Linked DNA regions of Homo sapiens: region 1 is linked to region 2. The links come from fine-mapping of genetic effects on gene expression. A gene starts in region 2. The other region holds a variant in brackets. All regions are shown on one strand. Distances are between the middles of the regions.

Region 1 (5,385 bases), 150 kb after region 2:
ACACGTCGAATAGTCAATGACTAATGGCATAGAGAGAACCAAAGAGAGATTTTTAATTTAGAGCCCTGTATGTGCAATTTTTGAAATTCATGTTGTATTTTATATCTCTCATAGGTGAAATGAACCAGAAATACAAGGAGCTAAAGAAAAGGGAGGAACATATGGACAGTAAGTGATATTCTTGTAGATATAAAAATATAATATTTTCAGATTGCTGTTCATTTATACCAAATCAGAGACCTCATTTTGGGCAGATATAATGGCTAATAAATGCAGAAGTGTGGACATTCAAAGCATTTTGCCTTGAAGAATAGTTTCTAGCATAATTTAGAGATGGGTAGAAAATTCTAAAAAGATATGTGATGAGTGTCTATACGTTGGGGCTAGATTCTAAAGCTAGTACTTACATTCGTAGTCTGTACAGAGGAAACCTATAGACCAGGGGTCCCCAATCCCCAGGCTGCAGACCGGTAGGAACCAGGCCGCACACCAGGAGGTGAGCCACTGGCAAGCGAGCATTACCGTCTGAGCTCTGCCTCCTGTTAGATCAGCAGCAGCATTAGATTCTCATATGAGTGTGAACCCTATCGCGTATGAGGGATCTAGGTTGTACTCTTGTTATGAGAATCTAACCCCTGATGATCTCAGGTAGAACAGTTTCATCCCAAAACCATCACCCGCATCTGCCCCCAGCCCTGGTCCATAGAAAAATTGTCTTCCATGGTCCCTGGTGCCAAAATGGTTGGGGACTGCTGCTATAGATCATTTATTGATTGAATGTTCTCTTTTACATGCTTCACTATATTCACCTTTAGTATCTTTCACTTTTATATTTAGCTTTCCATAATACTTATCTCATTGTTTATTAGCCCTCACATCAGATATTGTCACTTTTTTCTATCACCAGCTATAATTTTAGTTGCCTTTTGTTAGTTTTGATTCACTTAAAAAAAATCTCAGCCTGATTTTATAAATTGGTTTTCACTTAAACCTATACATTTATAATTTTTTTAAAAAATTGGCATGTATTCTCAATTACTGGTTTCCTTTTAAGTTATCATTTTGCTGGAATCTGAATTCTAGCGAAGTGCTAGAATTTCATCTAGGTCTGATGTCAATAGTTACCTTCATGGAGGCATGCAATAAAAGAGTAATTGTCACCTCTTATTTTACAATGTACCAAGTTTTCTTTAAAATGTCAGTAAATACCAAAAATTATCTCAAAAATATTTTTTTAAGTCTTTTGGTAAAGGAGAAAGGTGTAAAATCAAGGAACAATGTGTCATGACACCACAGTATTGGAAATTACTAGATACTACCTAGTGTGGTATCTGGCACTTAGGTGTCAATAAGTGTTCATTTAATGAATGTTTACTGAATGAATGGAAAGAATTCCTATACTACAGAATCTTAAAATAGAAGGTCACCTAGCTCAGATTTCTTTCCACATATTAATTATGGTTTGTTTTCCTTAAAAAATAACCCCTGAAAGACAATGTTCATTTATGCCTTTGTATATGTAAAAATCTCATATGTCCACTTAATGTGTGATCAACAGATTATAGAAGCAGGATATTCACACATAAGACCTGTGTGAATGCTGAAGCAGGACATTAAAGAAAATTCAGTTTTATAAAAAATGTTGATTGTGGTCCTCTACCACCATATTCAAATAAAAAATGTTTTGTTGAAGACTGTTTTACTTTAAAAAATATGCTAAATATAAGAAAAAAGTATAATGGGAATCCATTACAGAAGGCAAGCTATTGATGTTATTCATGCTAACAGTAAAATTATTTTTGACTGAAAGTTTCTATTTTTTAGATGCTCCATAGAAATACTCGAAAATGTAAATAAGAGCTGTTTCTATATTAAACAAGTAAAAAGATAATTTCCTAGAATATTTATTTACAATCTGAATACATTATTAAATTCATTTAGTTGAAATGAATCCAGCATTGTAAATAAAATACTTATTTTCAGATAAAATGGGTATTCAGCATTGGAAATTATAGAAATAAAGTTAGTAGTCAGGGTGTTAATAATTATTGATGTATCAAAGGAGATCTTTATAAAAGCAAATTTCTTCTGATTGTCATTTTATCAGCTATTTCTTTTGAGCTTATATTTATAACTTTCTGATTTACTTATATCAAGGTCACAGGATTTAGGCAGTTTGAAAGTATATAAAGTTCTTATTGAATAATAATTACCTTTGGGTTAATAACAAATTAAACAGTGGCAGCTTAAAATTTCTAAAAATTGGGCCAGGTGCCGTGGCTCAAGCTTATAATCCCAGCACTTTGGGAGGCCGAGGCGGGTGGATCACGTGGTTAAGAGATCGAGACCATCCTGGCCAACATGGTGAAACCCTGTCTCTGGTAAAAATACAAAAATTAGCTGGGCGTGATGGTGCATGCCTGTAGTCCCAGCTACTCAGGAGGCTGAGGCAGGAGAATCCCTTGAACCCAGAGGTGGAGGTTGCAGTGAGCCGAGATCGTGCCACTGCACTCCAGCCTGGCAACAGAGTGAGACTCTGTCTCAAAAAAAGAAAATTCTAAAAAGCACTCTTAAGAACTGCAAATCAGAGTTTATATAGTGTTAACTCTATCAGCAGTAA[T/C]CTCTCTTATGTTTTCCAATTGTCAGCTTTTATTGAGACTTTTGAGGAAACAAAGAATCAGGAACTGAAACGAAAGGCACAGATAGAAGCCAACATTGTTGCACTCTTGGAGCACTGCAGTCGAGTGAGTACCATGTGCCTGTCTTGGTGTCCTCTTTATTTTTGCCGTGATTAACTTTCCAAATACAACTCAAAAAATAGAACGGCTCACTATTGTATCTTCTCATTTAACTGCTTCCTTTCAATTCCCTTACTTGTTACTATTTATTTCAGCTATTAACTTTTTTATCACTCTAGCAAAATGTCAGGTAATTAGGGCAATAGAGAAAAAGGATGACATGTATAATATCAATATTCAGCAGTAAATGAAGCACTAATTCAGAGTAATTATTATGATCTTCTTCCATTGTTAATCTATCTGAACTTTTGAAAGTAACATTTGCACAGATAATTTCAAAATCTAGACATGTTAGAAAATGTTAATGTATTTTTATACTGTAAATTTATTGTAAATAAAAAGATTCTTGTATGTATATGTAATGAGTATCTCAAATTATCAAAAAATGTTTATTGGGCATCTATTATGAAATGCATGCCCCCCTTTCAATATTCTAGTGTTTTAAGACTCCAACCAGTTTCTAAAATAGTGTAGTTGAATTTTTTCTGCAGTGAAATAAAGGAAATGAAAAAAAACCCACAATTTTGAATTTATAGTCTGTCTTTATTGAGAAAACCCAATTTGGAATCTCATTTTCTATACAATATATAACTTGAATGGTGTATTTCAAAAAAAATACCTGATCCAAACATCTCATCCTTTGACAGTGTTTTCCAAGAGTTTTATTGAGAACTAACTAAATCAGTGGATTTTTTTCTATTTTTATTTCTCTGCAAATGCAGAATATAAATCGTATAGAACAGATATCCTCTATCACCAATCAAGAGCTAAAGATGATGCAGGATGACCTCAATTTTAAATCTACTGAAGTGCAGAAATCACAAAGTACAGCTCAGAATTTGACTTCAGGTGAGAAAACAACCTAGATTTTAATATTCTTTTTTTTTAAAATATATCAATGTTATTCTCTGATTATTTTAAAGCCTCATTGACAGAGGCTATAATTTATGATTGCCTATTGCCCCAGAATTATGTGTGGCTTTTTTCATCAGCTGGCTAGTATTATGTTGTATATTGTCACTGATTTAACAACATTTATTGAATACTTATTTCAAGCCTGTGCTATATAATTCTGGATATTGTTAAAGATAAACAAAGCTGGATGCATGTTAAAGTGCTAAGGATAGATTTTAGTCAGTAATACAGCGTGGCAGTAAGGCAGGAGGGTCCAGCATGAATTGAAATCAACTTTGATTTGTACAGAGGTGATTGAGTGTTTTAAAGGGAGAATGAGGGAGTAGTAAGGGAAATGAAAAATTACAGGGTTCATCAATGTACATGCTGGTTAGGCCAGCTGTGTCTGTTAGCTGGCAATTATCAAGTTAGGAGTCTATGTTTATACACAGACTAGCAGACAGAGGCCCTAACTTTCCTGATAATCACGTTTTAATGGAATGGCTTTTAGGTCCTTGAGGAAAATACTCCTGAGTTGTGGGAGGTACATACAGATATGGTTTGGATTTTTTGTCCCCTCCAAATTTTATGTTGAAATGTGACCTCTAGTGTGGGAGGTGGGCCTAGTGGGAAATGTTTGGGTCATGGGGGCGGATCTCTCGTGAATGGCTCAGTGTCATCCTTGCAGTAATTAGTATGTTCTCTGTGAGTTCACGCAAGATCTGGTTGTTTAAAAGAGCCTGGTACCTCCTCCTTCTCTCTCTTGCCTTGTAACATGCAGGCTCCCCTTTGCCTTCTGTCATGATTGTAAGCTTCCTGAGGCCCTCACCAGAAGCAGTTGCTGGCACCATGTTTCATGTACAGCCTGTAGAACCATTAGCCAAATAAACTTATTTTTTAAAAATAAATTACCCAGTCTCAGGTATGCCTTTATAGCAATGCAAATAGACTAGTACACATATACATCTTAAAGGTACAGAGGAAAGATTCACAACTGGATACCCTAAGAAAGGGTAGTCAGGGGCCTGTTGACCAGTACGGGCTAGAATAAATAGTACATTCTTTCGGCGGCCTTGAGCTTTGTCTGGCAGGCACTTTAAGTGGGGATAGGGTCATCCCAGGGATGCAGACTTGAGCTGTTAGAAACTGTTTGTTTAAATCTTCTAATGTGGGTAGAAGGTGGTGCATGAAATCATTTGTGCTGAGAGTGGAATTTTTATAGGCAGAGGTTGAGGCCTAGTTGAGAAGAGAGCTCAGAGGAGCCTAGCTAGTTTGGTCAAGGATTGAATCTTTGTCAGTATAAGAGGCTTAAAAAAATCTAATCTGTTTCCTCAAGAAACTTTCAACTTGGTGGAGTGACAGTTATGATACAATGAAATAATGCTATGATAGAAGTAAGCATAAGGAGCAACGGAAGTACATAGGGCACATATCCAGCCTAGTCTTGGATAGTTAAGAAGAGATGATGTTTCACTTTAATTAGTTTCAGTCATGCTTGCTATCATGAGACTAGAGCAGCACTGTCCAAGAGAAATTTAATGACAGTATATATTATATTTATATAAAGTTTTCGAGTAGCCATGTTGACAAAGTAAAAAGAGACAGATTAATTTTAATAATATATTGTATTTAAACTGATATAGCCAAGTTATTATTTCAACATGTAAGCTATATAAAAATGATCAAAGAGATA
Region 2 (5,385 bases):
TTAAAATAAGAATGGTAATATCCAAAACTGAATCTAGAAGGGGTGGGAAAACTGAATAGATCTATATTAAATAATTTTTTTAAAGAGTGTCTTAAAAAATCACTCTAAAAAACTCCACTAGACCCAGATACTTCTGACAAATATTTGAGAAGAAAATATAAACCATTCTAGAACACACCAAAAAAACACAAAGCTTCCTAATTCAATCCATTACAAAAATAAAAACTACAGTCTGATCTAATTTAGAAACATATACATAAAAGTTGGCCGGGCACGGTGGCTCACGCCTGTAATCCCAGCACTTTGGGAGGCCGAGACGGGTGGATCACGAGGTCAGGAGATCAAGACCATCCTGGCTAACACGGTGAAACCCCGTCTCTACTGAAAATACAAAAAATTAGCTGGGCGTCGTGGCGGGCGCCTGCAGTCCCAGCTACTCGGGAGGCTGAGGCAGGGGAATGGCCTGAACCCGGGAGGCGGAGCTTGCAGTGAGCCGGGATCACGCCACTGCACTCCGGCCTGGGCAACAGAGCGAGACTCCGTCTCAAAAAAAACAAAAAAAAAGAAACACATACATGAAAGTAAAAATACTGAATTCCAGCCAAGTACAACAAACTCAACAAACCAAACAGCACTTGTCCCAAGACTCCAAAGACTGTTCAACATCAACTAACTTATCAACAAATTACATTATCTGACTAAAGGAGAAAAAGTATGTGATCATCTCAACAGAATGCCAGAAAACCACCTGATAAAATCTCTACATAAACTGTTTCTACTCTACCAAAGAGAATAATGAGCAGAGGATATGTACAGAAAATTACATAAGAAGAAATCAAATGGCAAATAAAAATATTAAAATGTTCAATCTCACTAATAAGGAAAATAAAAATTAAAACAAACTATTAATTTGACCCACTAGTCTGGCAATTTTTTTAAAAAATGCCATCAAAATGTCATCAAAAGCTAGTTAAGAATCTCAGAAATAGGTATTCTTATATATATACTGTTTGGACTATAAATCTGTAAAGTCTCATTTGGAAAGCATTTGGTGGCATTCATAAGTTTTTAATAGCATAAACTTTGACCCAGGAATTTCAGTTCTCACACTCTCTCCCAACATAACTCTTGTAGGAGATATATACATAAAGGTGTTTGTATTGTAGTCACAACAATACAAAAAAACCTGCACACCCAAATATCAGAAAAATATAATACAATACCAGGCAGTCAGTAAAAATAACAAACCACGTATATAAAGAAGCCTATCACAACAATGCAGGTATTCAACAGCGGGAATAACACAATACAGCTTAAGTGTAGGAACTTAAAAACACGTATCTCACGAGGAGTGATTAAAAGAGGCCGCGTATCAAAATACTAATGGAGGGGCAAGAAAAGGGACTTGACGCTTTCCCTTTATTTCCTCATTGAATGAATTTAAAGTACCTATTCATTCATTTGTTTTCAAACAAATTATGAACTTTTTTAAAACGGCGTTCTCTTGGCAGACTGGTGGCGTATAAAGAACATGGCTTTTGTAGTCAGATATTTGGATTCAAACCTAGGAGCTATTAACAAACTCTGTGACCGTGGGTAAAGTTTAACTTCTTTGGGCCTCAATTTTCTTATCTCTAATGCGGAGTTAACCATATCTACGAAAAGGTGAAGACGAAGGGAGAAGTGTTTGGCTCGCAAGGGAAATGAAGGCTAGCTTCCAACTCGTATTCTTCCGGCAGAGTGAAACCATAGGAGTGGAAGGAGCCAAGAGTTTAAAAAATAAATTAAAAAAAAAGTGATCAGGAAATCCAGAAACTTGAAGTTCAAGATTCAAGACACGGATGGGAGTGTGGGGCTCACCAGGACTTAGGTAGGAACATGAACCTCAAGGACGGACGACCTTGAGATTGCCGCGCTAGCAGTGAGCTCCAGCCTGCGCCCCATCCCTCTGGAAGCCCGACTTCTTCCGAAAAAGCAGCAGCTCCAGGAAGCGGCCAGAGGGGCGCGCACGCACCTGCTGCAAGGAGCCCGAGACGCTGGAAGAGTCGGTACTCCTCCGCTTCCGGCGCTCGCTGCGCTCCACGCTGCTCCCGCCCCAACAGCTGCCGCCGCTCCCACCGCCGGTGACACTTCCACTAAAATTGGCGTTCCCACAGCAGCTGACGCTCCCGCAGCCCCCGGCGCTCCCGCAGCCGCTAGTGCTTCCACTGCTGCCGCTGGCCAACGCGGGTACGATGTCCGGGGCCGCGAGCGCTGCGGCCGCCTCCTGACTGCTACGTTTGCGCCGTTTCTCCCGGGAGGACTTTTTCCCCGTCATGATCCCTCTGCTGCAACCATCGGAGGAAAGTCCGCTGTCTCTGGTGCGACCGAAGCCCGACTCCTGCGGCCGTGGGCGGCAGGCACTGGCGTCGCAGGTTATGCGTCACTTCCGGCCGTGGCACAGAACGTGGTGAAGCGTTATGGGCCGGGGTGGCAGGGGGGTTGCCATAACCAGTTGCGCTTCCCCCTCCGGTCGCGGAGGTCGATTTGAGTGTGTAGCGGGTAGCCTGTCTAGTCAGAGTTTGTTTTGTTTTGTTTTTATATCTCTACAAAGGATAGAAGGTGGAACTTACGTCCTTTTAACTTCAAAACTTTTTATTGTTAGTGTTTTGTCTGTTTACAATAAGGTTGAAGTATAGTTGCTGATTCTCCATTTCCGTTTACCTCCAAATCTTAAGATATTAACAACGCTATGACAATAAAGAGAATAGGGAAAAGTTGTTCCATCTCATTTTCCTCATCACCTGGGCAAATTAGGTATTTCTTGCGTAGAGTCTGACATGGACAAGTAGAGCTTGAGTTCGTTTTTGAAAATTGAGAATGGGTCAAAGCTTTATGAGATTTTATGGGTGGATGTAATCTAAATAGAAGGCAGATTTTAAGACAAGGGAGCTAGAACACTTAAAACGTGAACCAAGGTCTTTGTCGTTTCAGCAGGGGCCTTTAGCCACTGAGGGAAAAAGGTAGAGCCTGGGGCAAAGCTAGCTGGGTGGTAGTAATTCTGTGCCTTTCCCTGGGGTAAGAAGCAATTAAAGAAGCTTCCCTTCTCTTTGTCTCCTATTTGTCTCAGTCATTCAACAACTACTTAAATGCCTAAAACCAGCCTAGGGTTAATAAATAGGGACACTTCCAGCCCTAGGAAAACTGTCTTCCCCCAGGCCCCACTCTTAAATTGGCCTTGTAAGGTAAATCCTGGGGCTGAGCCCACTGTGTTCCCAGGAGTTCCGTTAAGTATCACACTCATTGGAGTCATACCTGAAAGGATTGAGAGTGTTGTGTTCACAGATAGGAAAAACACATAAAATTAATAACATGTTACATTTATAAACCTGTTATGAATTGTGTCCCTGAAACCATCATAATTTTAATAAAACTAAATTGCTAGATTTTTTCTTTTTTCTTTTTTTTTTTTTTGAGACGGAGTTTCACTCTCGTTGCCCAGGCTGGAGTGCAATGGCACAATCTCGGCTCACTGCAACCTCCGCCTCCCGGGTTCAAGCATTTCTCCTGCCTCAGCCTCCTGAGTAGCTGGGACTACAGGCATGCGCCACCATGCAGGGCTAATTTTGTATTTTTAGTAGACAAGGGGTTTCTCCATGTTGGTCAGGCTGGTCTCGAACTCCCGACCTCAGGTGATCCACCCGCCTCAGCCTCCCAAAGTGCTGGGATTACAGGCGTGAGCCATCGTGCCCTGCCAAATTGCTGGATTTGTGACAAAAGATAAGCTTTTAGTAGAAGCATAGCTAAACGTTAACCAACTTTTCCTATAGCCCACTTCCTTATAGCTGCTTATTGCTTTATAGATATCTTTGACTCGGTTAAGAAATCTCAAGTTTTCCATTTTGAGATATTTACCAGATTCTGTACTCCAATGGTGTTACAGAAGTTAAGAAATTATTTTAGGCAGATAGAGAGGTAAAGGGGTCTTTGGGAAGTTTTTTTTCTTTTAAAGCAGCTCCAGAAATGTTTCTTGTCTAGCAAAAAAGCTGGGCTGGCAAGCTATGATATGCAAATGCAGGCCGTTAGAAACTGGGTTTACTCAGTATGGCGATTCCCCTCTTCTTCTTGTCCCCACATGTGCCTAGCAACATGGCCATCCCCACATATCCCCACATGTGTAGAACATTGTGGCACCCTACATTCGCATATTAAAAGGCTAGGGTGGGAGGGCCACTTTTTTTGCAGGCTACGTGAATGACATACCTGGTCAAACCAATTCCCTGGGTCATATGCAAATTAGTCACCACCTCCTCCAGCCTCATAATATAACTGGCTCTTGTCTGCTGCACCCAAGGTTCCCTCTTTCATCTGGGAGCCCTCTTCCCTCTGGTTCTGTATGAGGGAGCCTCTTCTTTCTTGCCTATTAAATTCTCCGCTCCTTAAAACAATTCCACTTGTGTCTGTATCGTTTTATTTAAACCAGCACGAGACAAAAGACTGTGGTGTTCCTCCAGTCATTGGAACCATATCAGTGGGGTCACTGATGCTACTCAGTCTGAAGACCCCTTCTGAGAAACGAACTCAGCACAAGAATGCACTTTCTACCTCCTTATGATTACATCCCCCATGCCCTAACCAATCAGCAACCCCTAGCTCCTCAGCCCCCTACCCACCAAAATTCCCTTAAAAACCCCTGTCCAAAAACTTACTGGGGAGGTGATTTGAGGTTCCCTCCCATCTTCTCCCTTGGCTGGCATACCATTATTAAACTCTTTCTCTGCTGCAACTCCTGCTGTTTCCATGTATTGGTCTGGTACCATGTAGTGGTTAATAGAACCTGATGGTCCTATAACATCACCCACAGAATTCATATGTTGAATCCCTAACCCCAATGTGACTGAATTTGGAGATAGGGTCATTAAGGAGGTAATTAAGGTTAAATGAAGTCATAAGGGTGGGTCCCTAATCTAATATAACTGGTGTCCTTATTAAAAGAAGAGTCTGGGCCAGGCATGGTGGCTCACGCCTGTAATCCCAGTGCTTTAGGAGGCCGAGGCGGGTGGATCATGAGGAAGATGGAAACCATCCTGGCTAACACGGTGAAACCCCGTCTCTACTAAAAATACAAAAACAAAATTAGCTGGGCGTGGTGGCAGGCGCCTGTAGTCCCAGCTACTCAGGAGGCTGAGGCAAGAGAATGGCGTGAACCCAGGAGGTGGAGCTTGCAGTGAGCCAAGATCGCACCACTGCACTCCAGCCTGGGCGACAGAGCAAGACTCCGTCTCAAAAAAAAAAAAAAAGCCTGGTACAGTGGTGCATGCCTGCAGTGCAAGCTACTCAAGAGGCAAACTGGGGAGGATTGCTTGAGGCCAGAAATTCTGGGCTGTAGTGCGCTGTACTGATCAG

The links. PIP is the estimated chance that this variant, and not a neighbour inherited with it, causes the effect.
Region 1: its variant is the best candidate, but not a certain one, in a credible set for the expression of CAAP1 in thyroid (GTEx, PIP 0.67).

What each region holds. Positions count from the first base shown.
Region 1 is chr9:27,044,628-27,050,012 of GRCh38, forward strand. IFT74 (intraflagellar transport 74) reads left to right here. Exons shown (of 20, transcript NM_025103.4): 14 at 115-168; 15 at 2,647-2,744; 16 at 3,521-3,647. Among named protein-coding and RNA genes, the nearest start is that of LRRC19, 42 kb to the left of the region's middle. The variant T/C (reference allele first, on the strand shown) is at 2,621.
Region 2 is chr9:26,890,399-26,895,783 of GRCh38, forward strand. It overlaps CAAP1 (caspase activity and apoptosis inhibitor 1), which reads right to left and starts at 2,404. Exons shown (of 6, transcript NM_024828.4): 1 at 2,015-2,404. The coding sequence starts at 2,317. It also overlaps the pseudogene RN7SL100P. RefSeq lists enhancers at 1,803-2,382, 1,954-2,133, 2,214-2,433, 2,383-2,962, 2,564-2,633.